2 separate regions of the Homo sapiens genome follow, and region 2 is linked to region 1. Evidence: fine-mapped expression QTL. A gene starts in region 1. The other region holds a variant in brackets. All regions are shown on one strand. Distances are between the middles of the regions. Region 1 holds the start of SIAH2 (siah E3 ubiquitin protein ligase 2). Region 2 overlaps LOC101928105 (a long non-coding RNA gene).

Region 1 (15,095 bases):
GGCTGGGTGCCATGGCTTATGCCTGTAATCCCAGCATTTTGGGAGGCTGAAGCAGGAGGATCACTTGAGCCCAGGAGTTCGACACTAATGTGGGCAACATAGCCAGACCTTGTCTCTACAAAAAATAAAAAATCAGCCTAGTGTGGTGGCGGGTGCCCATGGTACCAGCTACTCAAGAGACAGAGGCCGGAGAATCACTTAAGTCCAGGAGTTCGAGTTACAGTAAGCTACATATCATGCCACTGCACTCCAGACTGGGCAACTGAGTGAAACCCAGTCTTAAAAAACCAACCAACCAACCACACATAACAGACAACTTTTGGAGTATCTGGCCAGCCCCAAACTGCTCTTGTCAGAATTCCTCCCACCCACCCACAAGGGCAGACGAGTGGCAGCCATGTTTCCACCCAGTGAGCCTGTCTGTGTGGCCTTAGCTTAATGGACTGGGAATGGTCACGTGACCTAAGCTGTCCAGTCAGATTCTCTCTTCTGAGATTTGGCTTAAATCTGAGATCTGGCAGTGCCTCATCCCTCAGGAGAGGCAGCTGGAACACAGGATGATAAACTCAAAATCTGCAGGCTGGCTACCTTTGACCTTGGGCTCTGGAAAGCAGTAAGAGCCAGTTTGCAGAAAGGGGAAGGGTTAAATAAACTCTATGACAAATAATTGGAGAGCACAAGTTGCCTGTTTACTGGAGGTTTGCAGCTCCTGATTCTAGGGGTCTCAGGCCTGTGGACACTGCCCACCCCTGTTTTCCATGAGACCCCCTGAAGTAGTCTGAAATAAGTTTCATCTTATTCGAAGGAATTTACAATGGACCTAGCCCAAGGCTGGGCATACAGTAAATATTTTCACACTTGATGAATGCACCAATAAGGTAAATGGTTTGCATCTTATTACTCAATGCTATAGCACTCATTACACGGTAGATCAGCTATTCATTTGCCAGAATTATTTATGTTTATGCTGTGGAGACAGTGAAACAGGGGCTGGAGGAGGGAGAGGCTGGTGAGGTGGTGGAAGGCAGAGTCCCTAGGTGACTTGTGTAGGCCCTTGGTGAAGGCAGGGGCAGCAGGGATGGCGTGGTGAGCTAGGTGTGCAGGACGCACAGAATTTGGCTAAGCTGGAGGGAGGGAGACATAAGGACACCTCCTGGAGTCGAAGCAAGACAAACAGGGCAGTAACGGGGCCACAACCAAGTCGGAGAAGACAGAAGGGGAAGGAGCAGCTTTTCTACTTTTTCTTGGAATTTCTGTAGCATAGACAGCTGGAGGAACCAATTTTAAAAATCACCTGCTTTCCATTATGGAGTCAGATTCTCCCTTTTATTACCATCTCTTTTCTTGGACTCAATGACAGTCTGTTATTGGATTTTTAATCTGACAAAACTGATGTCAAAGGAAAGGAATGTATTATTTGAGGCCTCAAGGTTATGTCAATTTTGCTGGTTCTCAGTGATCCACACTGTCTGTTGGGTTAGGCTGGCGTGGACGAGGCTCTTTGGGGGAATCTCAGATCAGACTTAGGGATGTGGGGATGGAGAATAAGGAGATTATTCCGGACTCTCTCCCCTCTGCCTTTCTTCACTTCTCACTAAGGGATAGAGATCTAAGAACAAACAGTCCTAGGAGAAATGCTGTATATGCAACTCTGCCTCAACAGCGGGTTCAGAAAGGAGGCCAGCAGGGATCCAAGGATGGTTCCTAGAGGAGAGAGGACAGAAGACTCCCCAAGGTAGGAAAGTTTCAGGAGCTCTGTACCTTCGGGTATACGCTGCCCTCTCTCTGGACTGCAGTCTTTACCCTCTTCTTTGGTTGTCACATTCCTACTCTTGCTTTTTCTTGATGTCTTCCTCACACTTGCCCAGGAAGTGCTGAACTTCACCCTCCTCTCCTTTCCCATCTCCATAATACACGTATCACACTGTATTAGATTTTCCATATGATGTCTGGCAGGACAGCCAAATGGTTAAGAGCACAGTCACTGGAGTTAAAACAGCCTGGATCCAAATCATGTTTCTGTCACTTATCAGCATGTGACCTAGGACAAGGGATTAAACCTCCTCTTGGAGGTTTGTTCATCGCTTAAAGGGGATTAATAGACTACATGCCTTAGAGCGTTCTAATAAGGATTAAATGCCATGTGCTTAAAAGAGTGTCTGGGGGCCGGGCACAGTGGCTCACGCCTGTAATCCCAGCACTTTGGGAGGCCGAGGTGGGTGGATCACCTGATGTTAGGAGTTTGAGACCAGCCTGATCAACATGGAGAAACCCTGTCTCTACTAAAGATAAAAAATTAGCAGCGCATGGTGGCTCATGCCTGTAATCCCAGCTACTCAGGAGGCTGAGGCAGGAGAATCGCTTGAACTCGAGAGGTGGAGGTTGTGGTGAGCCTAGATCACACCATTGCACTCCAGCCTGGGCAACAAGAGTGAAACTCCATCTCAAAAAAAAAAAAAAAAAGAAAAGAAAAAAAAAAGAGTGTCTGATATCCAGTGAGCATTGTGTAAGGGTTTTATAATTAATGTTATTCCCCTACCAGGCTACTATCTCTCCAAAAATCAAGCCTGGGCTTGATATTATCCATGGCCTCCAAATATGACACTATTGACTGAATAAATCTTTGCACTTAGCCAGCTGACCAGTGGCCACAACCTGGCTCATAACCTTCATCTCTACTCGACCCAGGAAGCCCCTCTTGGAGCACTAGATCCTCCAACCTATTTCCTTCTTTCTGGGATCTCCAAGTTATACTCACATACTGCCTTTGGGTTACTCTTCTTAAATTTAATATTTAATATTAATTTAAATTTAATATTAATTTCAGCAAGTCACCTCTCAGACCCAAAGACCTGACTGAAGCTCCTAGTTCCTTTCTCAGCAGTATAATGCCCACCTTTTCTGGCTGGCTAGTCTTTATCACCCATTTTGGCACCAACCCTGCAGCTAAATAAATCCTTCACTAAAATAACCCCCAGAAAGGCAAGGACAACACACTTTTTAAAAAATAACACACGAAACACATGAATAAATTCTCATTGTACAAACAAAAAAGAACAAGAGAAGAAAAAAGAAATAAACTCCAGAAATATAGGAAGTATGTATGTTTTCCATACTGCATATCCATTCACATTCCCCCTCCCTGGAGGCAGCTGCTGCCGTCAGTTCACTGTCTTCTTCCAGACCTTTCTATGCCCTTGTAAACATATAGTCATTTTGCCTTGCACGGTATTTTCTACAGAAATGGAATCATTTTGGGTTTTTTGGCTTCAGTGTTTTTTGTTTGTTTGTTTGTTTTTTGAGACGGACTCTCGCTCTGTCGCCCAGGCTGGAGTGCTGTGGCACAATCTAGGCTCACTGCAACTTCTGCCTCCTGGCTTCAAGTGATTCTCCTTGCCTCAGCCTCCCAAGTAGCTGGGACTACAAGTGCCCACCACTAGGCCCAGCTGATTTTTGTAATTTTAGTAGAGACAGGGTTTCACCATGTTGGCCAGGTTGGTCTCAAACTCCTGACCTCAAGCGATCTGCCCGCTTCAGCCTCGCTAAGTGCTGGGATTTCAGGCGTGAGCCACTGTGCCCAGCCACAGTGTGCTTTTTTCATGTAACAAATTGTCTTGGAGAACTTTTCTAAATTGCAGAGGGTTTTATAGGATGGCTTTCCATAGTTCTTTTTCTTATTGATGGACACTGAGGTTGTTTCCAAACTAAATGATGATTTCATTTTCGCACATCTTCTATCACATCAAATTATCATCTGAAAAATATGGATTTACATAAAAATAAGAAATAAGAACATTAATTCTGGTTTTGTTGGTGTTCAATTTTTTTGTTTCTATAGCTGTAAATAACAAAAATAATATTCCTATATTTGTTTCCTTATATTTAAATAGCATTATAATAAAAAATCATTTTACATATAAGCCTTGTGACCTGGGACAGGTGTATTAGTTATATATTGCTGAGTAACAAATGATCCCAAAACTTCATGGCTTAAAACAACAAACACTGAAGCCAGGTGCAGTGGCACACACCTGTAGTCCCAGCAACTTGGGAGGCGGAGGCAGGAGGATTGCTTCAGCCTGGGAGTTCCAGGCTGTAATGCACTATGATTGTGTCTGAGAATGGCCACCGCACTCCAGCCTGGGCAACATAGTAAGACCCTATCTCTAAAAATAAAGATAAAAATAAAAACAGCACATATTCATTATCTCACAGTTTCTGTGTTCAACTCAGCTGAGTCCTCTAGTTCAAGGTGTCACAGGCACAATCACTTGTGAGCCAGGGTTGCAATCATCACAAGGCTCGGCTGAGAGAATCCACTTCCAAACTCACTCACTGTTGGCAAGCCCAGGGTTCTCACTAGCTGTTGGCCAGAGACATCAGTTCCTTGCCACGTGGACCGTTTAGCAGAGCTACTCCCAACATGGTAGCTGGCTTCATCCACAGAGAGGGCTCAGAGAGTGTTACAGACTGAATACTTGTGTCCCCTCAAAATTCACATATTGAAACTGTACTCCCTAATGTGATGATATTAGCAGGCAGGGTCTTTGGGAGGTAATCAGGATTACAGGAGGTGCTAAGGGTGTAGCCCTCATGGAGAGGGTTGGTATCCTTAGAAGAGTCCTGAGGGAGCTTCCTTCCTATCTCTGCTACGTAAGGACACAGTGAGAAGGCTGCCATCTACAAACCAGGAAGCAAGCCATCGCTAGACACCTGTGGCACCTTGACCTTGGTCTCCCCGTCCTCCACAACTGTGAGAAATAAATGTTTGTTATTTAAACCACCCAGTTTATGATATTTTATTATAGCAGCTCGAGCTAAGACAGCAAGCGAGAGGAACGGAGGGACAGTAAGACAGAATTCATAGTCTTTTTTAACCTAATCTCAGAAGTGACATTCTATCACTTTGACCATATTCTGTTCACTTAAAGCAGGATCAGCCCTCATTCACAGGAAAGGTGTTACATATTGGGCGACACCAGGAGGAGGGATCCCTGGGAGCCTTCTTAATGATGACTTCCTACAACTCTCTTGGCCTCTCTGTACCTGTTTTGTCATCTATAAAGATCTACCCTATAAAAGACATTGTGAGAATTAAGAGAATTAAAATATGTAAAGTACTTGGAACACTCCCTGGTACAGGGTGAGCACTAATTAGCTAAGTGTGGATACAAAAATAATGCAAATACATAGAACTGCTCTTAGTACACAGTGCTAAGTCCATGATGGTTGTTCAAAAAAATGCTTGAATTAGGAGTACTTGAGTATAGGAGTTTGAGGCCAGCCTCGGCAACACAGTGAGACCTCTTCTCTACAAAAACTAAAAAACTAGCAGGGCGTGATGGCACGTGCCTGTAGTCCCAGCTACTCAGGAGGATCCTTTGAGCCTGGGAGGTTGAGGCTGCAGTCAGCCATGATCCAGCCACTGCATTAAGCCTAGGTGACAGAGTGAGACCCTGTCTCAAAAAAAAAAAAAAAGATTTGAATTAAGAGACCTACAATTATTCAAAAGAAGTTTGAGCATTTGGAAATTACCCCAGAAACAGATGAAGTTAAAAGTTCCTACTATAATTACCAGGGGGCCTTACATCACCTCCAGATTTCCCACAAGCTTCCCCTGATGAGGAATTTCCATGCAGCAAGCTCCAATGCATACCTGAGTCATCTCTAAAAAGCCAACCACAATTTGCTCTGCAAATGCACATTTGCCTGATGGCAGAAGTTGCCTGATTTGCAAAACCACACAATTTGTAAGTTACAGAAAAAAGGGCAAGAGCTTGTCTGCCTAGCTGGAGCATTTCTCACTGTGCTCAGCAGTTTAGTGAAATTAGGAACTCACCTGTGAGGTGTTTTTTTTAAGACTCACCCTGCTATTTTAAGGAAAGAAAAGGCTACTCAGTACACCCCTAGTCTTTCAAGCTTAGCATAGAGCAGATGGGTTAAGGAGAGGTGTCCTGCTTGACATATGCAATCTGGGACTCAGTAGGTGGGCGAATGAGACCAACCTCTCATACAGTAGATGTGGTAAATGAGTCATGAATCAGGAGATAACAAAAGGCTGGACCCTGCTCCCCCAGACCACAAAGTCACTCACTAAACAGGCCAAGAAGCAGCAGCGACACTCCAAAGGGTAAATAAACCTCCCAACAACTCAACTCAGCACACATTTTGAGTACACGCTAAATTCGACCTCTGAGCGGACTGCCCGCTGGAAGAGGAGGCTCTAGCTCATAGTGCCCGGTATGCAAAGGTCACCTTTCTTTGTTTCAAAAGTCACCAAGGAAGGAGGAAGAAGAAAGGCGACTGGGAAGACCAGCCTGGTCATTGATGTGGCTCACATAGCAGACCTATCCACTCTCCCCCTGCCTACCTTCAGCAACTGCCCAGAGTTTTTTTGTTTTGCTTTTGTATTTTAATTACCCTGGTTGACTTAATCAGGTGTGCAATGATGTGAAGGAGGAAGAAAGAAGAAATTTCTCTATACCAGGGGAGGCATCTGCCAGGGTAAGAGTGGATGGGTTCGCTGTATTTTTAGAAAAATAAACCAAATTCTCTCTGCAGAGAATTGCTTTTCCTGTTATTTCTTTCAACACCTCCCAAACCAAATTGTTTTCTGAATGACCAGGGCCTATCTAGCTGGAACACTTAAAGCTCGTGTCAATGGGGCAAGGGTGAGGACTCCAGTCTCCTAATGAGAGCTAGTAAGAAGCCGTGGGGATGGAGGTCATCACACAGAGAGGCTAGAAGTGGAAGGAAAGAAAATGTGTTCCATTAATAAATTCCAAATGCTTTGATTTTAAATTAAGAATGAAAAATATTACATTTCCTCCAATAACAGTAAAACAGTAGGTGATTTTTGTGTTATCACTTATATTTTGTGTCATAAAAAGGTGAAAATGAAATAAATAGAACATGATTTAATTTTTCTCTCTAGACCAGCTAAGGAAAGAGTTTATGTAAAGTTTGCCCACAAAATTTAGTGCTTTATTATAGGCTGAACAACTGTTTTCTGACTCTGTTGAGTGTGCTAATCTTAACTGTTTAACAAGACTGTAAGTAGGAATCAGGCATAATTTAGAGGCATACAGACTAGTAGTTAAGAAGGGCTCCTAGCGTGTTCCCACATTCTCAGCTGTGTGATCTTGAGCAAAGTAACCTATGTCTCGGTTTCCTCAACTGTAAAATGGAGATAACAGTAGTATTCATCACAGAGAGTTATGATAAATACTTAAAACTATCCATGCCCAACATACAGTGGGCACTCAATTAACATTAGTTATTATTTTATGCTCCCTACCTATCCAAAAACTCAGGTTCAGCCATGTTACTAAAGAGCTTCCAAAAACCTACAAAACCTAGTGTTGTTGTGTGTTCTTAAAAAAACAAACAAAACCCTACAGTGGTTTACCCCTATCATTGAGGTAAATGTCTTATTAAGCCAGTTGAGGCTCCCCTTGTGCTAACGCCACACCCCTACACTCCCGTTATATCCCCTCCAAGTCCCAATGCAATCCCAGAATACATGCTTTCACTCTGTGCTTTTTAGCTCCTGCTATAATGCCTGCCCACCCCGTGGTATCTGAAATCCTTCTTCTCCCACGAGTGCTTGGTTATTGGGCCTTGCTCTCTTACTAGAATGTAAACTGCATGAGAACCATTCTCAGAGCTCCAACAGTAGCTGACACATGATAAATGCTCAGGAAACATTTACTGAACGATTGAATACACCTATTAAGTTTTTTCAAGATTTATACCAAATTCCATCAATTCCATGCATGTATTCTTTCTACAGAAGCCCTTTGTAAGATTAAACTTTATTTCTTCTGGGCTCTTACGCCATATTTCTTGGACAAATTGTATTCATTCATTTTAAACATCCACTAATATTTTTAAAAGATAAGAGCTAATGTTTAAACAGTGCTTATGATGGGCGAGGTTGTTTTAAAAGCTTGAAATATATTAAACTCATTTACTCCTCACTGCCCCACCTATAAGATAGGTATTTTTTTTTCCACTTTTACAGTTGGAGGGAACCATTTTTCACTCAGTCCTAACAGTTGGTCCTTACCTCTGTGTCTCCTATAAATTTCCGATTTCTACCTAAGGTAACCCTTTCCCCAATTCCGGAATCGTTGGCTCAAGCAAAGTCTGCAGAAAAACAATTTTAACTCGGAGCACACAGTTACATTTGGACATGCGGTTCACCCCGGGCAACCGTGCCCTCTAGCGCTTCTGCTGGGCGCGCAGGGTGGCCCTACGCCTCGCAACAAAGACTCGGACTTCGGCCGGCTCTCTACCAAGCGGACGCAGCGCCTTACACTGGAGTTTCACCCACTGTCTTCAGAGACCTCACGACCCAACCTACGTTTCTGACATTTCTAGATGATCTCGAACTCTTAGCCAACGCTGCCCATGAGCTCCCTCCTCGGCCTGCTATACGAGCCAGGGGCGCTCAATTCAACGAAGCTTCCTCCTGGTCCGCTGGGAAAGGAATAAAGGGAGCTTACATCCTCCCCACCGCCCCCCTCTTTACTCAACCCCACCGTTAACTGTACAAAACTAGGTCCTGTGCCCGCTGCAGACCCAACTCGAGCCCCTCGCCCTGCTCCCACCCAATGCTTCTCGTCCTGACTCCGAACACAGAACGCGGGTGGCCGCTTCGCCCTCTTCTCCTGCGTGCTGGTGACTCAGCCCTGAGAAGAGAAACCTCTCGGTTTTTTCCGACTAGTGCAGGGGCGCCCGCGCCCCGCCCCTGCCCGCCCGCGTCCGGTCCCACCCACCGTCCACGCTCCCGCCCCGCCTGAAGTTGCCTTTCTCGTTTGAGCTGAGGGACGCGTCAGCCAGGCACCCCGGGGTGTGGCCAGAGGACTTCGGCGACGCTTCCCCGAGAGTAGCCCCCCTCCTCAACCCAGAAAAGACAACCCCGCGGGGCTGCAGCGAGCCAGGCATGCTCACTGGCGCAGGCCCGGCCCGCAGCCCGAGCAGGAAGCGCCGGCGCTAGGCGGCCCCCTGCGCTGCCAGCTGGAGCCGGGCGGAGCCAGCGCCCCGGCGCAGGGTGGCTCTGCCAGTCCCCGCGCGCCTGGGCGGCCGCACACGTGTCCAGGCGTCACGTCCGCGCGCGCCCCCGGGGCTTGCGTCAGCGGCTGTTCCAGAAGCGGGTGGGCCAGGGCTCTGCGCACCGCTGGGGTTCGGGGCCCGGGACGCCGCCGGGAGGAGGGCACCGCGCGGGGTCCGACGCGGAGGCGTGCTCGGAACGCCGGGGGCTGCGGAGTGCATCAGCGCGGTCCAGCCCTCCGCCTGCCGGGCGCCGAGCGTCTCCGCCGCCCGGACCTGGGCTGGGCGCCGTGGCGTTGCCTCGGAGCTCGCTGCCCGCGGGGCGCGCACCGCCTTGACCCGGGCGGCCCCGCGGCAGGCAGGCGCCCGCAGTTCCATGGTTGGTTCGGAGCGCGATGAGCCGCCCGTCCTCCACCGGCCCCAGCGCTAATAAACCCTGCAGCAAGCAGCCGCCGCCGCAGCCCCAGCACACTCCGTCCCCGGCTGCGCCCCCGGCCGCCGCCACCATCTCGGCTGCGGGCCCCGGCTCGTCCGCGGTGCCCGCCGCGGCGGCGGTGATCTCGGGCCCCGGCGGCGGCGGCGGGGCCGGCCCGGTGTCCCCGCAGCACCACGAGCTGACCTCGCTCTTCGAGTGTCCGGTCTGCTTTGACTATGTCCTGCCTCCTATTCTGCAGTGCCAGGCCGGGCACCTGGTGTGTAACCAATGCCGCCAGAAGTTGAGCTGCTGCCCGACGTGCAGGGGCGCCCTGACGCCCAGCATCAGGAACCTGGCTATGGAGAAGGTGGCCTCGGCAGTCCTGTTTCCCTGTAAGGTAAGCCCAGGGACAGCCCACGTACCTCCGCCGGTGACCTCAGGGACTCCGGTATCCGCCAGCCCACTCGCAGGCCCGGAGAGGCGGGCGGCATCTCTCATTTAAAAAAAAAAAAGAAAAAATGTTTACACTTCGTCCACCCTCCCTCAAGCCCACTTTGGGTGTAGGTCTGGGTTGACATTTACCGAGTAATAATTGTTAATAGACAATTAACAGATTAATTGGCATTTGCTGATCGTTAGAACATCGTAGCTCACCCGGCCCAATGCCCGCGTCCTCTGCAGACGTGTATTCGGGTACTCTCGGTAGGGCTGGGCCGCACCAGTAAAACTTGGACCGAGAAACTGACTGTGTGGGGATTGAGGAGGGAGGAAACGGGCGAGCTAAACGCCCCCTTTACCAGCGCTGGGCTCGGCTGAATTGATAATTGGAGTCCTGCACCCCGCGCCTACCGTCTGCGCACCCCTGACACGTGGGAGCTCTCGGGATTGTAGCTAAAAAAAGGGCGCCTACAGCCTGTTTTCCTCTAGCTAGAAGAAAACCCTGCAAGCCACGCCTTTTTCTCTCCTAGCCTTCCAAAGACTGGGAAGGACTGAGGAGTTGTGGCTGCGTTGTTGTACTAAGTGGGGTGAAAACAGTCAATCAAGAAATTAACAAGGGCACTCAAGAGCTGTTGTTACAGTTGTTTAAAGCTCATCACTTCATTTTTTATTTAATGTAAAAAGTTTTCAATGCCCTTGCGAAAAATGCAAGCCACCAAGACAAGAAGTAAAATGAAAGACCAAGATCTCTCCCCTCCTTTCCCACCATTGTTAGGTTTAGTGTGTATCTTTTTAAACTATATATACATACACCCTCGCAGCTAAATATAGAATCATAGATGTCAGTGTATGTCAGGGAGGTTTTTTAATACCCACACATAGATGTAAGTTTTTCTCCAAAAATGGCATCTGCAACTTGCTGTTCTTAAATTCATATTATCACACATATTTCTCTATGCCTGAAACCTAGTCGACTTCATTGTATTTTAAATGGCTGCATAGTATTGCATTGTGTGGTCATATTATAACATTTGTTTACCTGCAGCTATTACGTGGAAACCTTCAGGAGCAGTTTCACAGACATACTTGTCTACGTTATAACCTAGAAGTATACTGTAAAGTCATTTTCTGAAATTAGAAGTGGAGATAATGTCACTAATACTTTCCAGTTTTTTTGTAAAAGTAACTTGCGCTGCCTCTTGGGCCATTTAAGCTGTCTTGCATTTCTCCTTGGTGCTGCTTATTTTATAGGACAAGAGCTCATTTTTAAATTAAAAATAATCCACCAGAGAATTCAGGCTTGGGACTCAGGTCAGTAAAATGAGTGCTTTAATTTGGTCTGCTGCCCTGCTGCAAATCAGGTTTAAAATAGCATATTTAAATAAGAGTTTGAATCGGTGTTTGGACTAGGGTGTTTCAGGCAACCTTAATAAATTGCTGTTAACCCCTCCTCATATAGTGCTTACTAATTCACTCAGCCCAGTTTCTCAAAATTTAGATAAAGTATTTGCATAGTTGTCTTAGGGTTGTGAAAAAGGTGACAACCTAGTGGTTGGAAAAGGTTTGGTGGTAGTTAACATAGAGTGGCTATTTGATGCTTGAGATATATTGCAGGGGTGGGGGATGCCCCATAGGATTTCTGGGGAGCCATTTTCTCACCCCTTTACTTTCCCTTAAACGCGCAGCGGCTAACAAAAGAAATGGCTTTTAGGTGAGTTTTAGTTCACAAATGAGCATTTGATATTAGTCAGTAATCCATAATTTGTTTTTAAAATGTAACCATAATAGAATTGTGTTGTTCCCAAGAGAAAGGGAAGGAAACAGTTATGCTATATGGAGCATGAAGTTTCACTTTCAGGATCTAGAACTCTGGTTCCTATGAAAGCATACGTTCTTTCCTAACGTGAAACAGGCTACTGAAATCAACCTTGAAGAGTAGTTCTGGGAATCAGGGGTTCTCAGCCTTTCTGTACATGTCAGTGGTTTTCTGAGTCTCTATTCTATAAGAATGCAGTGGGGTAAAGCTATTACTTTGCAAGCTGAAATTTAAAAGGGCCAATTATTCCCCTGCAGACCAAGAACCAAGCTTAGGATGTGATCTTGGGGATGCTTTTGTGTGTGCATGTGTGTGAGTTGTATAAAGCTGGGGTGTGTGTCCCTCACCTTTGGTTGATCAATAATCCAAACTATTGGCAGGGCAGCTCAGCCAGTTAGTCTGGATAAACCAAACTTGAATGTATACATAGGCCCAGCGACCAACCAAGATGTGTTAGTTGTAGAGGATGAGAAACAACAGAGAGCCGTAAGGCCTGTATCAAACTTAAAACAAGGCAGATCTGTTTACCTAGCCCTTTGGCCTACAGTTTGAGGCTCCTAGAAATTATGGGACTGCCTTTTTACTGTCCCCACCTGCTCTCAGAATCTCTCATGGGCTGGCTCATGTGAAAAAAACCAACGTTGAATAAAGTACCAGAGCCCACATCTCAAGAGCTGCCACTGTTTGCCTGAAAGACCACCTCCCAGGGCCTTGATTTCCTCATCTATACAAATGAGAGATGAATCTGCTTGACTTCTAAGGACCTGTAGCTTCTAGCATTCTATGAAAAGAAGGGAGGCTATCTGGAATGTTATTGGATGCCCTCTATCTGCCAGTTACTTTGCAGGGGTCAGCTTTTACTAGTTTGCCTTTTTTTTTTTTCAGATGAGGAAACTCATGCCTACAGAGTGGTTAAATGTGAAGTGACTTGTCAAATCACACAGCTAGTAAGAGGACCAGTCCAAGCACCTGCATCTCAAAGGCACAGATGTTTTGTCCTACACCTTACTACGTAGGGATTTCGAATCTGAGTGTATACTCAAGATTCTGAATCATAACTCAAGGTTGACACCAGTAACAAAACCGTCTGGTTGGATGAGTTCACCAGATGGGCCTCTTATGGGACCATCCCAAAATGACAACATACATACTCACTATGAAATTCATTGGCAGGAATTTTGTAGGGCATGTAGGGTAGGAAGATGGGAGGGTGGGGGAAACCTACAAACCTAGTATTTTGTGGGGTATCATCACAGCTCTGGACTGCTTCAGTTGGCAAAAAAATGGATGTATTGCCAAATAACTATCCCACTTAGGTTTAGGGTAATTAATTAAAGGCTAGAGTGTTGCCAGCACCTTTGATATGGGGAACCGGATGCATTATTAGCTCAGATCTTTGGGTGTGGTGACTCATGCCTGTAATCCCAGCACTTTGGGAGGCAGAGGTGAGCAGATCACCTGAGGTCAGGAGTTCGAGACCAGCCTGGACAACATAGTGAAACCCTGTCTCTACTAAAAATACAAAAATTAGGGCCAGGCGCAGTGGCTCACGTCTGTAATCCCAGCACTTTGGGAGGCTGAGGTGGGTGGATCACCTGAGGTCAGGAGTTTGAGACCAGCCTGACCAACATGGAGAAACCCCGTTTCTACTAAAAATACAAAAAAGTTAGCTGGGCATGGTGGCACATGCCTGTAATATCAGCTACTCAGGAGACTGAGGCAGGAGAATTGCTTGAACCCGGGAGGCAGAGGTTGCAGTGAGCCAAGATCACGTCATTGCATTCCAGCCTGGGCAACAAGAGTGAAACTCAGTCTCATTAAAAAAAAAAAAAAAAAAAATAGCCAGGTGTGGTGGCAGGCACCTGTAATCCCAGCTACTCAGGAGGCTGCGGCAGGAGAATCGCTTGAACCCAGGAGGTGGAGGTTGCAGTGAGCTGAGATTGTGCCACTGCACTCCAGCCTGGGTGACAGAGCAAGACTCTGTGTCAAAAAAAAAAAAAAAAAAATGGAATGTCTAATAGTGTATGGCTTTCTTCCGCTTGGGGTATTTTTTAATCCATTCTGTGGCTTGTTCCATGCCTGAGAACTTTTGACATCCTGTGCCCAGACTTAAACTCACCCCTTCAGTGTGTGGGTTTAGGGGGAGAAGTGAAGGTTGACACATTCATATCAACAACATAGTCTACTTTACCATCCAACGATGTATTTTGATATCAGCCAAGTATTTCTCTCTACAACTGTGAGCAATGCTAATCCACTCCAGCCTTCTTACACTGTAATGATACCTTTTCTTTGTCCTCTCTGAAAGTTTCTAGTAGCATATCTCCAAATAATTATTGAATTTGAAAGCCTCAGCTGGACAAGTCTTCTCTGTGGTTGAATTGTGACAATGTCTGTGTTCCTTAAAAAAATAAAAAATAACATAAAACCAAGTAAGGTTAGACAAAACAGTTGAAAGTTTAAAATCCCTTGGCCTCATCTAGTTCAGTGGAGACAAACTTTCTAAATGGGAGGAGGGCCATGTAATGAGAGGAGAGGAGAGGAGAGAAGTATTTGATGCACTCATGGCCTCAGGGTCAGGGAGACCTGGAGGAGCAGTGGAGATGGTGGAGAGCCAGAGAACAGGTGCCACCTCCCAAGAGGCAGCCTTTACTCACCTCTGGCTGATTGGTGGGGTTGGGGATGTGGGTACAGGCATATCAGACCTTTAGATTTTTTTCAAGAAAAGCCAGAAATCTGGATCTTTTTTTTTTCCTTTAAGAGATGTCATCTCACTATGTTGCCCAGGCTGGTCTTGATACTCCTGAGCTCAAGCAATCCTCCTATCTCGGCCCCCCAAAGTGCTGGGATTACAAGTGTGAGCCACCGTGCCCAGCCTGGATTTTTTTTTTATGTTAAATATCTCGATTTTTTTTCTAGCATTGGCTGACTTCACATGTATAACCACCACTTGCAGACAAAGCGAACCACCACGTCTCCAGGCCAAATTCCAGCTGCCAGCATGCAGCCTCTGATCTGATTCTCTTGTAGAAGCATTCCTTGAGCCTGGAAGTTCTCATTTAACTCTTGCCATACATGAACTTTGGAACTCTGTTAGGCCCTAACTGTTGGTGATTTTGTAGCTTGTTTTCTTTTCATCTTCATTTTGCCAAGAGAATATTATTTTCTGGCCATCAGGAACCCTCAGATGATGGCCTTGTGACTAGATGTTTGACTCTATACAGGTCAGTTTCTTTTTTGCACCTGAGGGTCTTTAAGAGAAGGGATTGGACTAAATGATTATCCCAAGGTTCTTTCTTACCCTAAAATTTTAAAATATAGTAAGCGGTCCCAGTGAAAAGAACGTGAGCCAGGAAACAGAAGACCTGGGTT
Region 2 (15,095 bases), 35 kb after region 1:
CCTCCTGACCAGAATCCGCATTTTAACACAGTATGCAGGTGATGTGGATGCATGTTCAAGTTTGGGAAGCACTGGTTGGATCAAAGGTTATCACCCCACACGTCCTTTGGAATCATGTGGGGAACTTTAAAGAATGCCAGGACCTAAGTTAGAATTCTTGGCAGTAAGGCTGAGCTTCTGTGTGCTTTTTAAAGCTTCCCAGAAGGGACCAGCACACAGTCAGGGTTGAGAACCTCTGACCCAGTCCAACCTCACTGCCTCATTTTCTCTTGTATTTCTCATACAGCCGCTGAGACAAGTGATGTCACCTGCCAATACTGTAGATTGAATAACCAGGGAAGGCTGAGGAATGCAAGTGAATGTAAAAACCACCTGGAGGGAAGCATTGCAGCAAGAAAGGAACAGCAAGTGCAGAGGCCTGAGGCAGAACCAGCAGGGAAAATGCTTTGAGGTGAGGCAGGTAAGGAGCTAGAGCCTTGCCCTGTGAGGCCAGCTAGGGGTCTGGCTTTCTTTCCAGGTACAATGGGAGGCCACTGGAAAGTTTCAAGGAGCATGGATGATGGGATTCGGGTTTTTAAAAAGAGCTGTAGCTGTTCAATTAAAACAAAACAAAACAACAAAAACAATGATTATAAAGGGCAGGAATGGAAGCATTTTGGAAGCTATTGCATTTCACCCAGTGAAAGATAATTATGGCTTGGACAGAGTGAGCAAAGGTAGAGATTAACAGAAATGGGCATATTTGGGCTATGTTTTCAAGGTAGAGTTAACAGGAGTTGCTAAAAAGTTGGATGGGTGGGAGAGGGGTGATGATTATAGGAATAAGGAAAAGAGAGAATCAAGGATGATCACTCCTAGGCTCTCATCCTGAGTAAATGGGTAAGAAGTTCCATGTATTGGGGCAGAGACTAGTGAAGGAGCCAGCATAGGGCAGAAATCTAGAGAGACACATGGCTGAAGACATCAACCAGACAGTTGTTTGTATGAGCTTGGAGCTCTGAGGAAAGGCCAGGATGGAAATACCAAAATGTGTGCACCATCACTATATGTATGGTGTTTAAGCTGTGGGGTGGAAGTGAGAAGACCCCGGGGTTTGGGCAATGGAGGGAGGTGCATACAGGCAGAAAAGAGGGTGGGACTCAGGCCTATCTCCTGGGACTGCCAACCTTTTAGAGGTCACATGAGGAGCCAGAGCCTGGAAATGAGGGTGGATAGAAGAAGTGGCCATCAAGATGAGGGGAACTCCTAGACAGTACGGCATCACAGAACCCCAGGAAAAAAATCTGGCTCAAGTAGAACAGAGGAGTTAGCCACTGAGAAGACAATCGAGGTCATGGCAAGATGTCAAGAGCAGTCTCATGGAGTGGAGAAGACAGAAGCCCAGAGGAGAGCAGGTGAGGGAGAGAACAGGGCATGGGTGAGGAGAGGAGGCAGGAGCTATAGCTATAGAGCTATAGACAAGTTGCTATAGACAAGGCTTTTAAGAAGTTCCGCAGAGAAGACGTAGAGAAATGAAGCAGTTGCTGCAGGAGAATAGTGGGATCAATGAAAGATTTTTTTGTGTTTTAAAAATTGGAGCCACTAGAGCATGGCACTGTGCCAATGGGAAGGATCCAAAAGAGAGAGCGAAATGGATGATGTGGAGAAGGAGGCAATCACAGCGGGGGCAAAGTAATCAGAAAGACAAGTTTCCAGGGCAGATTACTTACTTATGCAGTAGAGATGGTCAGGAAGCAGCCATTATTGAAATAGAGAGAGGTGGGAAAAAAATTGTGCCAACAAGCAAGGGTTGAAGCAAATTATGTTTAGAAGGCCCTGGTGAGGGCGTCTGTGCATATCCAGCCCTGAACAGGAGAAAGGCACTGGCTGCAGCTCAGTCTAGAACATCCCAGGCATCTGAGAGGTTTACACCTTAGCAAGCTGTGGTGTTTTTCTAGGTTCCATGAAAACCTGGAAGAAATATTCCTGAGGACCATCCAACACCATTTCCCTGAGAGACAAGCTGTAAGTGCTGTTCTAGTTACAGATCCGAGTCCCTGGTACATTGATATCAAGTAAGGGTGCATGCAGCTCAGAAGGCAGTTTCCATTACACTGGACAAGAGTGTGGCTGCCTGAGTCCTAGAACTGCAGTGGCTTCTGCTGACAATGTGAGGAGTAGCTGCCCTGTCCAGAGTGTGGCCCCGCACGCTGCCCCCTCCCCTGGAGGGACTGAAGAGAACAGCTTGGAGCATGCCCTTCCCTTTCCCTTATCTCGCCCACTATGCTAATGCTGCTCATCCCTCAAGATCCGAGTTATTCCTCCTCAATTCAATACACACCAATCAACTGCCCTGTGCTTGGTCCTGTACTTTATATCCTTGATATGGTTTAATTTTCAAAACAAAACACCTTGAGGTGGGTATTATCACTCCCATTAACAAACAAGAAGGTGGGGGCTCAGAGAGGCTAAGTAACTTGCCCAAAGTCACACAGCTTGTAAGCAGTGAAAATGGGATTTACACTCAGGAATGTAGCCCTTCCAACAGCCCTGCTGCCTGCAAAAGTGACTCAGATATGGACTTTACAGTCTAGCAGAAGTCTGAAAGCATCAAACAAAGAGGCAACTTACAGTAGCATGAAATATGCAACCACAACTACATCAACTATGTTTGCAAAGCAAGTTAAGACAAGGACGTACAAATTGCTATGGAGTTCAAAAGAGGATTGGAAAAGGCTTCCGGGAGAAAGCAGCGCGTGCATTGGGCCTTGGGTGTTGGGTAGGTTTTTGCAAGGCTGAGGTAGTTAGGAGGATGTGCCAAGAGATCAGCCTCTCCTGGATCAAGACCAAACCACTCAATGCCTAAGTCCAGCCTTGTCCACCTCCCATCCACTTCTCAGGGCTATTCTTCTCTCACACTTCCTTTGTTCCCGCGTTCCTGACACCCACACAAGGTCAGACACGTAGAACGTGCCGAGTGAATATCAAAGTTCAGCAGTGTCTTGTCTGGTCCCTAATTCTAATCTATCCTTTAACCCATCCTCATACTAGCTAAATTTCAGGACGAACCCTGTCCACAATAAAAACTACTTCTTCTAGAGAATTTGCCCTGCCCATAGTTCCTGGAACACCCCATGCAAACCCCCCACTAATTCACACACCCACAAACTTGTAATGCAGGCCACAGCTGATAAGACCTTACCCAGGCCAGCGGTTCATTGGCTGAGCAGCCACCAGTCAGATTCTCTTGAGAGAGTCAAAGACAGTCAGTGGTGTGCACCAGAGTCACACAGCCCTGGAAAGTCAGCACACTAGCAAAGGAAAAGCCTTGATAGCAAGAGGCCCCTAGGGGTGGAGGGAGCAGCCACTGCCGCCCACCCTGCCAGGTCCTAATCCCTCCCCAGGGAGCCCAGAAACACTCCATTTCCTGCTTTGAGGCATCTTGGAGACAGCCTGCTGTGCCTTCACAATTAATTCTTCTTATCACTTTTTTTTTCAATTTTAGACCATATTTATTCACTCCCACCACCAAAATTGAAGAAAGTAACACACAAAGTTTCTCCCTCCTTCTAATTTTGCTTAATTTTATGATTATTGCTGTCAAGATGTATAACTTTTTTTTTTTTTTTGAGATGGAGTCTCTCTCTGTTGCCCAGGCTGGGGTGCAGTGGTGCCATCTTAGCTCACTGCAACCTCCGCCTCCCGGGTTCAAGCGATTCTCCTGCCTCAGCCTCCGAGTAGCTGGAATTACAGGCACCTGCCACCATGCCCGGCTAATTTTTGTATTTTTAGTAAATACAGGGTTTCACCATGTTGGCCAGGGTGATCTTGAACTCCTGACCTCAAGCAATCCACCCGCCTCAGCCTCCCAAACTGCTGAGATTACAGGCGTGAACCACTGCACCCAGCCAAGATGTATAACTTTTAAAAAAACATTTTATTAGTAAATTTTCAAAAGGAAGGAGAATAATATAACGAATTCGATGTGTTATCACCAACTTCAACCATTATCAACTCTTGGCCAGCTGTCCTGCATCTATACCCTCACCTACATCCACGTGTGGATTTCTTTGAATCAAATCCCAGGCATCATATCATTTCATCTGTATATGTTTCAGTATAGAATATCTAAAGATTAGGACTTTGAAACATACTCACAATACTGTTTTTATATCTATAAAAATTATAAATTTTAATATAATCAAATATCCAGTCAGAGGTCACATTTCTCTGGTTGATATACAGTCTGTTTGAACTGGGATACATATATAAGATCCTTACATTGCTACTGATAAAATGCTTATGTCTTTTTTAATCTACAGATTCTCCCTCCATCTCTTCTCCTTTCTTGAAGTTATTTATTGAAAAACCCAGGGTTCCTATAGCAGAGTTTCCTATAGTCTCATTGCAACCCCAGAATATCATTTTATCAGATTCAGATTTGATTTTTCTTTTTATAAGACTGCTTCAAACCAACCAGGGAACTGTTGGGGAGGAAAAAAAAGAAGACTGCTTCATAGGTGATGGTAGTGATGTGTATGTCTATAACACAAAGGACAATGGCTGTTGCTCTCTTCCTCTAACTCTGTCTGTCTCTTTTAGTGATATTATCGGCCATTGATGGCTCATATTCACTTGTGAGGCATTACAGAATGATCTTTCAAATCATTCCTTTTTTATGAACTGGAAAACTTCTATAGTGACAAACTTCCTCTTTTCAACTATTGGTTTACCGTAAGGTACATTTTACAAGGGAAAGATAACATAAATGCCTGATTATTTTCCTTTATCAGTTTTCAAAACAATGAGGTAGTTTTCTAGCATCCTCCAAAAATAAAACCAATGAAGTAACATTTTAAAAATATATCAGGCAGGCCAGGCATGGTGGCTCATGCCTGTAATCCCAGCACTTTGGGAGGCCAAGGCAGGCAGATCATCTGAGGTCAGGAGTTCGAGACCAGCCTGGCCAAAATGGTGAAACCTCGTCTCCACTAAAAATACAAAAGTTAGCCAGGTGTGGTGGTGCATGCCTGTAGTCCCAGCTACTTGGGAGGCTGAGGCAGGAGAATCATTTGAACCTGGGAGACAGAGGTTGCAGTGAGCCGAGATCACACCACTGCACTCCAGCCTGGATGACAGAGCAAGACCCTGTCTCAAAAACTAAAAATCATTATGTCTCTTAAAAAAAAGAATATCATTATGAATTCATGGATTTTAACTTTTTTATGTATTTCAATTCATTGCCATTATTATCCTTGTTGATACTCATATCATTCCATCTTGGCCTGACAAATGCATATTCAGCTTGGTTCCTGAGTGCTTTTGACATGATCACAAATAGCCTCTGATGTTCCAGGCTCATCTTGTTCTTTTCCTGCACTCAACATGTAATCAACGATGTCTTCAAGGAACCTTGATTTCTTTAGTGTGAAACAATGATTCAAGACCACAGTCTAGGCAGTAGGAGCCCCCGTTATTCAAACTTGAGCCAGTTTGAATGGATTTTCTACCCTGGAGCTGAATAGATGTTGACTAGAATTCTCAATGTTTCCACCAAAATAAGTTATGAAAGAAGCAAATCTGGTCACACAAATCTAATTTAAAATCTTCCCTTTTTTAGACAAGAGTGTCAAGATAATTCAATGGAGAAAGAATAATTGTTTCAACAAATGGGACAACTGGATATTCACATGCAAAAGAATGAAGTTGGATCCCTGCCTCATGCATGTGTGTGTGTGTGTATATATATATAAAAATTTACATGACAGACAGACACTGTCCTTTGTGTTATAGATGTACCCATCACCACCATCAACTATGAAGCCATCAGGGTTTTTTCCCCAATAGTTCCCTGGTTGGTTTGAAGCAGTCTTGTAAAAAGGAAAATCAAATCTGAATCTGAGCAGATTATATTCTTGGGCTGCAATGAGACTATAGGAAACTCTGCTATGGGGAACCTGGGTTCTTCAATAAATAATTTCAAGAAAGCAAAAGAGATAGAAGGAGAATCTATAGATTAAAAGAGACATAAGCATTTCATCAGAGGCAATGTAAGAATGTTTCTATTATATATTACATATTATATATTCATTCATTTATCCAACACACATATATACATACTGCTTCCCTACACTATGCCAGGTACTGTTCCATACACAAAGGATCCAGCAAAATGTACAAAAACTCTAGCCCTTGGCTGGGCATGGTGGCTCATACCTGTAATCACAGCATTCTGGCAGGCCAAGGCTGGCAGGTCACTTGAAGCCAGGAGTTTGAGACCAGACTGGCCAACATGGTGAAACCCAGTCTCAACTAAAACTACAAAAAAAAATTAGCCAAGCGTGGTGGTACAAGCCTGTAGTCCCAGCTACTCAGGAGGCTGAGGCACAAGAATTGCTTGAACCCAGGAGGTGGAGGTTGCAATGAGCTGAGATTTCACCACTGCAACTCCAGCCTGGGTGACAGAGTGAGACCCTGTCTTCAAAACAAAATAAAACAAACAAGCAAAAAACCTCTAGCCTTTGTGTTGCTTACATTGTCATGGAGAGAAGAAGGCAATAAACAAAATATATGCAAAGATTTTATACAGTATAATACATTGAAGATAGTCAATGCTATGGAGAAAAATAAAGCAGGTAGAAGGGATGGTCAGTAGGGGAGTAGGGGAGAGGAGGGATCGCAGTTATAAACAGAGTGATATTTGAGCAAATGCTTGACGGAGGTGAGGGAATGAAACATGCAGCTAATTGGAGGAAAAACATTCTAGGCAGGGGAAATAACAAGTCCAAAGGCCCTGAGGTGTGCATGTCTCGTGTGTTCAAGGAATATCCAGGGAGCGGAGTCCGGGGAAGGAAAGTAGGAGCTGAGGTGAGAAAGTGCGAGGAGAGAAAAACTTTGCTATTTTATTGGAGCAGAGCACAGCGGCGTGTTCATGTCTAAAAAGAGTAGAAATTATTCTGGATGGTGACTCCACAAGGGGAACATATGCAGCTTG[C/T]CTGGTTTCAAGATAAGGGCCATAATCAGTGGCACACAGGAGCCGGCACATACCAACTTGCAACAGTCAAATGTTTAGGAATCTTGAGAGCCAGTTGATAAACACAGCTATTATTAAAAATTAAATTCTAGATTTATAATTAAATAAGTTATATTTAACAGTATTATATTTAACAGTATATATTTAACAGTAGCAGTATTTAGTACTTAGAAAGTGGCAAAAGCAACAAATTGGGGCTTGATTTATTAGTTGTTGTCTAGACTTAAGAAAATGATGACGAAAATGTTAATAATAGAGCTTTAACTTAGAATTATGTCATACTTGGAACCATTACATTGCAAATAGAAAAAAAAGTTGAAGAAATATTTTTCTAGCAGTCAAAAACTACTGCCCAAATCAATAAAGAAGTCACTCACATCATTGATGACACTGATGAACCAGTGAAATTTTGACAAACATCTGAAAGTTAAGGCTTCTTCATTTTAATCTTACTGGTACCAACCAGCATTTATGTCATAATTGCTTGTTTGTCAATATCAACCACAGGTTGGCATACAATATATGCCAAGGGTTCAGCAAAATACAAGGTTCAGATACAACGGTTCAGCAAAAAGCAATGAAAACATTCTGAGGGAATCAATAAGCTATATGGAATTTACAGTTTAGAATACTGTATAATTTCTTATTATTTGTACATTGGGTGCTACAATTCCTTTATATCAGTAAGATTTATCTGACACTTGCATGTGTTAAAAAAAAATTTAATTTCTGGAGCACCAGTTGTTAAACATTTACCAGCACACCTCTGGCTACAATCTGATCAAATCCAATTTTACACATCTTAGAGCCCAGACAGATAGAGGAGAGAGAGGCCTCTCAAGGCAACGAAGCAATTAAAAGGAATGGAGTTACTTCAAAATCATTCTGCTCTAGAATTTGGAGTTGGCCACGCTGGAGACCAAGAATTCCTTTGTGTTTATATTTATGATACCTTCTATTTACAGTAGGTGATTCTAGCTCTCCATTTATGGTAGTGATACAGTTTCCTTTTCAAGTAAACTTGTTTAAAGTACCAAAAAAGACAATTTCGAGAAAAATGTTAAGTAAATGATAAACAGGAAATACACAGAAGTGACAAAAATTCAAATGATGACCTGCAGTATCTCCACTGGGAAACACTAGCTCAATGATTAAGAACTCAGGCTGGCTAGGCACGGTGGCTCACGCCTGTAATCCCAACACTTTGGGAGGCAGAGGTGGGCAGATCACTTGAGGTCAGGAGTTTGAGACCAGCCTGACCAACATGGCAAAACCCCATCTCTACTAAAAATACAAAAATTAGCTGGGCGTGGTGGCAGGCACCTGTAATCCCAGCTACCCAGGACGCTGAGGCAGGAGAATTGCTTGAACCCAGGAGGCGGAGGTTGCAGTGAGCCGAGAACATGCCACTGTACTCCAGCCTGGGCGACAGAGCAAGACTTCCCCTCAAAAAATAAAAGAACTCAGGCTTTCAAGCCATATCTGGGCTCAAATTCAGACACTTCTAATTACCGCTACCTTTGTGAATTCATTGGCCTCAGCGTCCTTGTCCATAAAACAGGCACGCTGCCAACTCCACAGGGTTGCAATGAGTTGTGAGATCCAGGGAAGCCCAGGGCCTGGCACAAATGGGAGCTGACAAAAGAGGGGCTCCAGGGAGAAGCCTCATCTGGGGCCTGGCCTCCTCAGCCCAAAACAGGCAATGCCTTCAACTTTCTCTCTGACGTGTATAAAATGTGAATGTTCACAAGCACACACACGCAACAGCAGCACACACTGTTCCCTGACTCAGCGTTCTCCCCTAAGGCCCTAAGTGCTTCCCTCTCCTATCTGCTGGAGCAGCAGGTTCTTAGGGGTTCCTTAAACCTCAACAGAGCCCTCAGTGACAAGTCCCTGGTTCTGCTGGACACTCTGGTTATAAAGAGGAAAAGACTTCTGCCCTGCCCCAGAGAGCTTTTCCCAGCTAGTGCGGGAGACTGGTAAACAGAGTAGAGCTGGTAAACAGAGTACCTGATGATGACCACGGGAATGGCGTGGTCCCCTAGGTCTCCCTGCAGAGCTCCCGTTGCTCTTCTCTGTTAGTCTTTTTTTTTTCGGGGCGGGGGGGTGATGAAGCCTTGCTCTTGTCGCCCACGCTGGAGTGCAGTGGCATTAGCTCACTGCAACCTCCGCCTCCTGGGTTCAAGTGATTCTCCTGCCTCAGCTTCCCTAGTAGCTGGGATTACAGGTGCCTGCGACAACGCCTGGCTAATTTTTGTATTTTTAGTACAGACGAGGTCTCACCATGTTGGCCAGGCTGGTCTCGAACTCCTGACCTCATGTGATCCACCCACCTCGGCCTCCAAAAGAGCTGGGATTTCGGGCATGAGCCACCGTGCCCGGCCTCTGTAAGGCTCTTTTGTTTGCAAGGAATGGCAACTCGGTCAAGGCCTCAAGTGAAAGGCCTCTATTGTAATAACAATACTGCAGCCAACACTGGCGACATTTGTGCTAGAGAGGCTGCAGTGGCTCCTAGATCCCTGCTCCATGCCTCACCAACTGCTCTGGGCCTGGCAGGCTGACCACTGCGTTTTGTAACCACCTAACAGCCTCATCCTTTGGCCTCCAATCAGATTGGCCTTTGGGTATCATGGGCAGGAGATCAGAGTTAGGGAGAAGTCTTAAGAGTATGCATGCTTTCCACTCCTGCCCTGTAGGGCCAGGTTGGCCCAGCTGCACTCTTGTCCAGACCCCCACAGTTCCTGCCCTGTCACCCTGTTTTGAGGCTGCTGGGTGTCTGATAACTACTTCCTCCCTTCGCCTCATCAGGCCTAGGAGTACTAAAGACTTCTCAGCCAGTTATAGCCCATGGTGTTCCACCATCCTTTGTCCCTTCATCTGACCTATACTTTTGTAAATAGTCTCTCAGCCTCTCCTCAGTTACCCAATTTGGGTGTCCTGCCCAGACCCAGACCGCTACCTGCTTACTGAGTACTTCATATGCACCAGCAGGCCCTTCTCCACATCTTATGCCCATTAACTCATTCAAGCATCAAAACAACCCTATGAAGCAGACACCAGTAACAGCCCAGTTTACAAGTGAGGAACCTGAGAAAGAGTGCTCAGTTACTTACTCAAGTTTACATGGTGGGAAGTAGCATGGCCAGGCAGTGTCTCTGCTGACGCTACTCCGTGTTAGGATATGTACAGGAATAGGAAAGTGCGTGTCTATTTTCACTTCCTGGAGCACAGGACCAGCCACACCAGCAGGTTTCTGGCACTCTGGAGTGTAGTTCAGAAATGGAAATCTCACCAGGCCCCACTGGGGTCTGAAGCCTCACTATCTCCTAGCCGCTGGTGTTGGCACATCGGTGTTACTCAGCCACATTCAGTCTGCTTCTCCTGCTGCCAGCACCCTGCTTCTCTCTGCTCTCCTCCAATCCTCACTACTTCTGCCTAGCATCTTCTCTGTGTATCCTTTGATTTCTACTCCTTACCAACTACTGCCAAAGAGGGGACCACTTGATTCGGACAGCCACTAGTCGACTTTAAAAGTCACTGGTCTCAGCAGGGTGCAGTGGCTCCCACCTGTCATCCCAACATTTTGGGAGGCTGAGGCAGGGATCACTTGAGGCCAGGAGTTCAAGACCAGCCTGGGCAATATAGCGAGACCCTGTCTCTACAAAACAAAAGTAACTGGGCATAGTGGTGTGTGCCTATAGTCCCAGCTACTCAGGAGGTGGAAGGATCACTGTGTCCAGGAGTCCAAGGCTGCGGTGAGCTATGATCATGCCACTGAACTTCCAGCCTGGGTGACAGAGCAAGAACCTGTCTCTAAAAAAAAAAAAAAATTAATTAATTAATTAATAAATATTTAAAAAGTCACTGTCTTTTCCCTGAGTCAGGAGATGCATGGTTACCCGACGAGATATAGGGGTCAATGGGAGGGAAGACACCAGCAGACCCACACAGGATTGTTTCATGGCAAAGTAAACAGAGACACACACGAGCAGGAGATTGCACAGCCTGCTCCCAGGCAAAGGTAGACACATTCTTCTAGTGGGTGGGGAAGTGGATACACCCTCCCAGCCCCTTCCGGCTGTGCTGGAAGCTCTGGCTGCTTGCTGGCTCGCCCCAGTGGCAAGAAGCTGATGCAAAACAACCCTTGCACATTACCATGAGACTAGGCGAGGCGAGACTCAGTTTCCCAGGAGCACCCCAGCAGACTGGGGCCTCAGGCCTACCCCAAGTCCATTCCTGCAGGTGTCCACTGGCCAGCAGTCATGGCGACAATGAGAGGGCCACCTAGTGCAGAAATACAGACCAGGCCATCAACGCAAAAGAAGCCAGTGAGGGCCCGTTCGCTGACCTCTCGGAGTGTAGCAGGCACCCAGGTCTTGACAGACTCCTCTATAGCACATTCCTAAGGCACCCTCCGCTCCAGTCTCCCTGAACTTCCCACAGTTCACAAACATACCGAGTTCTTTCACGACTCTGTGTCTCTGCCCAGACTAGTCTCTCAGCCCAGAAGGTCTTTTCCCACCTTGTTCCTGTAAACTACTTCCTGTTCATCCTTTAAAAGACGCTCCTGAGAAAACCTCCTCAGATACCCCAAGCCAGATCAGCTGTCCTGTCTCCTGTGTTCTTCCTTCCTGGTTCTCTGGAACAGCATTCACCTTGTGATACACTGACTTTTTTTTTTTTTAAGCTGTCTGTTCTCTCTCTCTCTTAAACCAAGAACTCCTCAAGAGCAAGGCCTGTGACTGATTCCGTTTTATATTTTAGGGCCCTTTCCCAGACCAGGAGCACACTAGATGTTCCCCAGGCAAGTATTAAAGAACTGAATAGATGAAGAGCAAGGAACATCATCAAAAAACAGCAAATAGGGTGGTGACTGTTGTTTCCCCAAAGCAAGCAGAGCCTGAGACAAAGCTTATATGAAGTTTATTTAGGAAATGCTGGGCATGGTGGCTCTCACCTGTAATCCCAGCACTTTCAGAGGCCAAGGTGGGCAGATCACCTGAGGTCAGGAGCTCGAGACCAGCCTGGCAAAGTTATACACATTCTTATGGTGTATACTACATGGTGAAACCCCCATCTCTACTAAAAATACAAAAATTAGCCAGGCGAGGTGACATGTGCCTGTAATCCCAGCTACTCAGGAGGCTGAGGCAGGAGAATCGCTTGAACCCAGGAGGCAGAGGTTGCAGGGAGCCGAGATCACACCACTGCACTCCAGCCTGGGCAACAGAGCGAGGCTCCCTCTAAAAAAAAAAAAAAAAAAAAAAAAAAAAGACATTTATTTAGGAAAGTGATTCCAGGCAACAGACTGAAGGACTGAAGAGGGGAGTAGGGGAGGAAAGAAAGCCAGCACAGGTGCATTATCCGCCGGTCACTGCCTTAGGTAACTGAGGCTCAATCCCGCTAGGGGCTTCTGAGGCACTGTGTAGAAGGACCTCAGAATTGTCCACTGAGAGAGAGAAGAGGGAGGTCTTCACCCTCCAGTTCCCATCCCCAGCTCATCAAAGGGTACCCCCTATCACGGTAAGTACCCTGCAAGTCCAGAAGGCAACCAGGAGGCAAATGTGTCCTGTGCCACGCTGCAGGATCCAGGAAACGTCAGGCAGCCAAAGCCAGAGCCATCAGCCACACCTGCACAAAACTGGTTGCTACAGCAGTGGCTGAAGTTGCAGCTGGGCCAACAGGATGTGCAGCATCCATTCAGGTCTGTGTAAGAGTAGGCGAAGTTAAAGCTAGAAAAGTCGCGTTAAGATTATATTGTAGAGGGCCTTAAACATCAGCCCAAAGCTTTATTTGCCACTAAGGATTTCCACACAATGCAGTAATATAAATAGCAGTACCAAGGGGGTGATTTGAGTTCCTTTCAGTCGCCTCCCTCAATAAACCCAATCTGCCATTCTCCAAAAAAAACAAAACAAAACAAAACAAAATATTATCTTAGTAAAAACAATGCAAGTCACCTCCTGCTCCTCTCATTAATCAGTTGCCATGCTTAAGCCACTCTATAGAAATACTAAGCACCCAGTCAGGTGCAACTGTCTCTCTTACCCTTCTATGAGGAAACTCCAATAAATAAATTGTTTTAATGTTTAGATCTCTGTGTCCATCTTTAAGATAAAAAAAAAAAAGGCGAAGCTTAGGAACCTTTAAGGAAGAAACCAGTCAAGGTGGCTCATGCCTGTAATCCTAGCACTTTGGGAAACCAAGGCAGGAGGATTGCTTGAGTCCAGAAATTTGAGACCAGCCTAGGCAGCATAGCATAGACCCTGGAAAGAAAAGAAAAGAGAAAGAAAAAAGAGAAGAGAAAAGAAAAGAAAAGGAAGCAGGGGGAGAGAGAGAGAGAAAGAGAAAGAAGATAGGAAGGAAGGAAGGAAGAAAGGAAGGAAGGAAAGAAGGAAGGAGAGAAGGAAAGAAAGAAAGAAAGAAAGAAAGAAAGAAAGAAAGAAAGAAAGAAAGAAAGAAAGAAAGAAAGAAAGAGAAAGAAAGAAAAAGAAAGAAAGACAAACCAGTCAAGAGGGCCCTCCTTGTTCAATCCATAAGGAGTCTTCAGATGATAGGGAAGTTCCATTCTAATTTCCAAAAAGACTTAGAGGAATTATTCTCTGATTTGCCACTATTCAGAACAGTCTGGGAAGCATTTCCCTATCTCCTCCTGACTCTGGTGGCACACCTATATGAAAATCTGCCATGGTTGCTGTCTTTGTCCTTTTGTGGTAAATTAGATTTTCTTGAACAGTCAAAGATCAAAGGCAAGATGAGAGATTAAGATTTATTTTCTTATATGAGTCATAGCCTGGATCACCAAACAGAGTTCACCAAATGTTTTGAGCAGCGATGACATGACTGAGACAAGATTATGGAGTTCTGGTGTGACGTTTAATTAAAACTCTTCATCTGATCAAGGGCACTGTCACTGTTGGTGACAATGTAAATTACCCATCACCCAGAAATTCTGCCTCTGGGAATTTATCCTAAGACACTAATAAAGAATGTGGGCTTACACTTAGCTACACGAATATTCACCAGACTGCTCTTTAAAAAAAGCAAAAATTGAGAAACAGCTTAAATTCCCAAAAGAAAGGGATTAGTTTTAAAAAAAAAAAAAAGATAGATGTAGGGCTGGGCATGGTGGCTCACACCTGTAATCCCAGAACTTTGGGATTCCAAGGCAGGTGGATCACTTGAGCTCAGGAGTTCAAGACCAGCCTGGGCAACATGGCAAAACCCTGTCTGTACCAAAAATACAAAAAATTAGCTGGGCATGGTAGTGCACGCTTGTGGTACCAGCTACTCAGGAGGCTGAGGTGGGAGGATGAGGCCAAGGTTGCAGCGAGTCAGATCACGCCACTGCACTCCAACCTGGGTGACAGAGTATAGACACCATCTCAAAAAAAATTTTTAAAAGATAGGTGTTCCATGCTGCCATAAATGTAAACACTATATATATGTACACACACACATATATTTATATATTATACTCTGACATAAGGTTAAAAGAATCTGTAGTATTCCCCAGGTTAATATTGGATGGATGGGATTATGAATATTTTAGATGTTCTTTTTGCATGATTTTCACATTATGAGCATGAACTTTTATAATCCAGAAAAATAATGAAAAATATTCACTGGTTAGGGGTGCAGTTTAGAGTCCCATTGCTCAGGCATAAAGTGAGCATAAATTTCCCTCTTTTTCTGTCTGCAGCTCATGAAGCAGTTTAGTCCAACAGACATTATCCAGCTTCTCTAGGGCATGCCCAGCACTGCAAACTGCTGGGGATGCAAAGGTGAAGATGGGGTACGTTTCCTGCCCCTGAGGGACTCAGGCCGAGTGAGCCCATATACACCTCAACAGAAATGCACTGGACATCTCAGGGAAGCCTAGAATTTGAAGCACTCCTGGGCCTCCCAGAGACTAGATATTACATTAAAGTGCGTTGTAAGGCAGCACTATACTAATGTAGGCTTCCAAATGCCTCCCATCGGAGGAACCGGCTCACGGGAGAAGCTAAGTGCTCTCAGGAGAGCTGGGGTGTGGAGTGAACAGCACGTGAGGAAATGGTTATGTGACATCTTTATGGCAGGC

Evidence for each region.
Region 2: its variant is fine-mapped to the expression of SIAH2 in whole blood (TOPMed, PIP 0.99).

Annotation. Positions count from the first base shown.
Region 1 is chr3:150,757,204-150,772,298 of GRCh38, reverse strand. SIAH2 (siah E3 ubiquitin protein ligase 2) reads left to right here and starts at 9,130. Exons shown (of 2, transcript NM_005067.7): 1 at 9,130-9,866. The coding sequence starts at 9,450. SIAH2-AS1 (SIAH2 and CLRN1 antisense RNA 1) reads right to left here and starts at 10,362. Exons shown (of 3, transcript NR_187306.1): 1 at 10,319-10,362; 2 at 9,892-9,960; 3 at 3,624-3,754. It overlaps LOC124909447 (a long non-coding RNA gene), which reads left to right and starts at 1,668. Exons shown (of 2, transcript XR_007096132.1): 1 at 1,668-1,735; 2 at 4,659-4,783. RefSeq lists enhancers at 8,135-8,194, 8,713-9,659, 11,476-11,575, 12,810-12,869 and a silencer at 8,705-9,604.
Region 2 is chr3:150,721,707-150,736,801 of GRCh38, reverse strand. It overlaps LOC101928105 (a long non-coding RNA gene), which reads left to right. Exons shown (of 3, transcript NR_121657.1): 2 at 287-460; 3 at 1,938-2,331. Among named protein-coding and RNA genes, the nearest start is that of ERICH6, 25 kb to the right of the region's middle. RefSeq lists cis regulatory regions at 2,805-3,496, 6,745-7,137 and enhancers at 8,903-9,402, 10,647-11,146, 11,147-11,648. The variant C/T (reference allele first, on the strand shown) is at 6,974.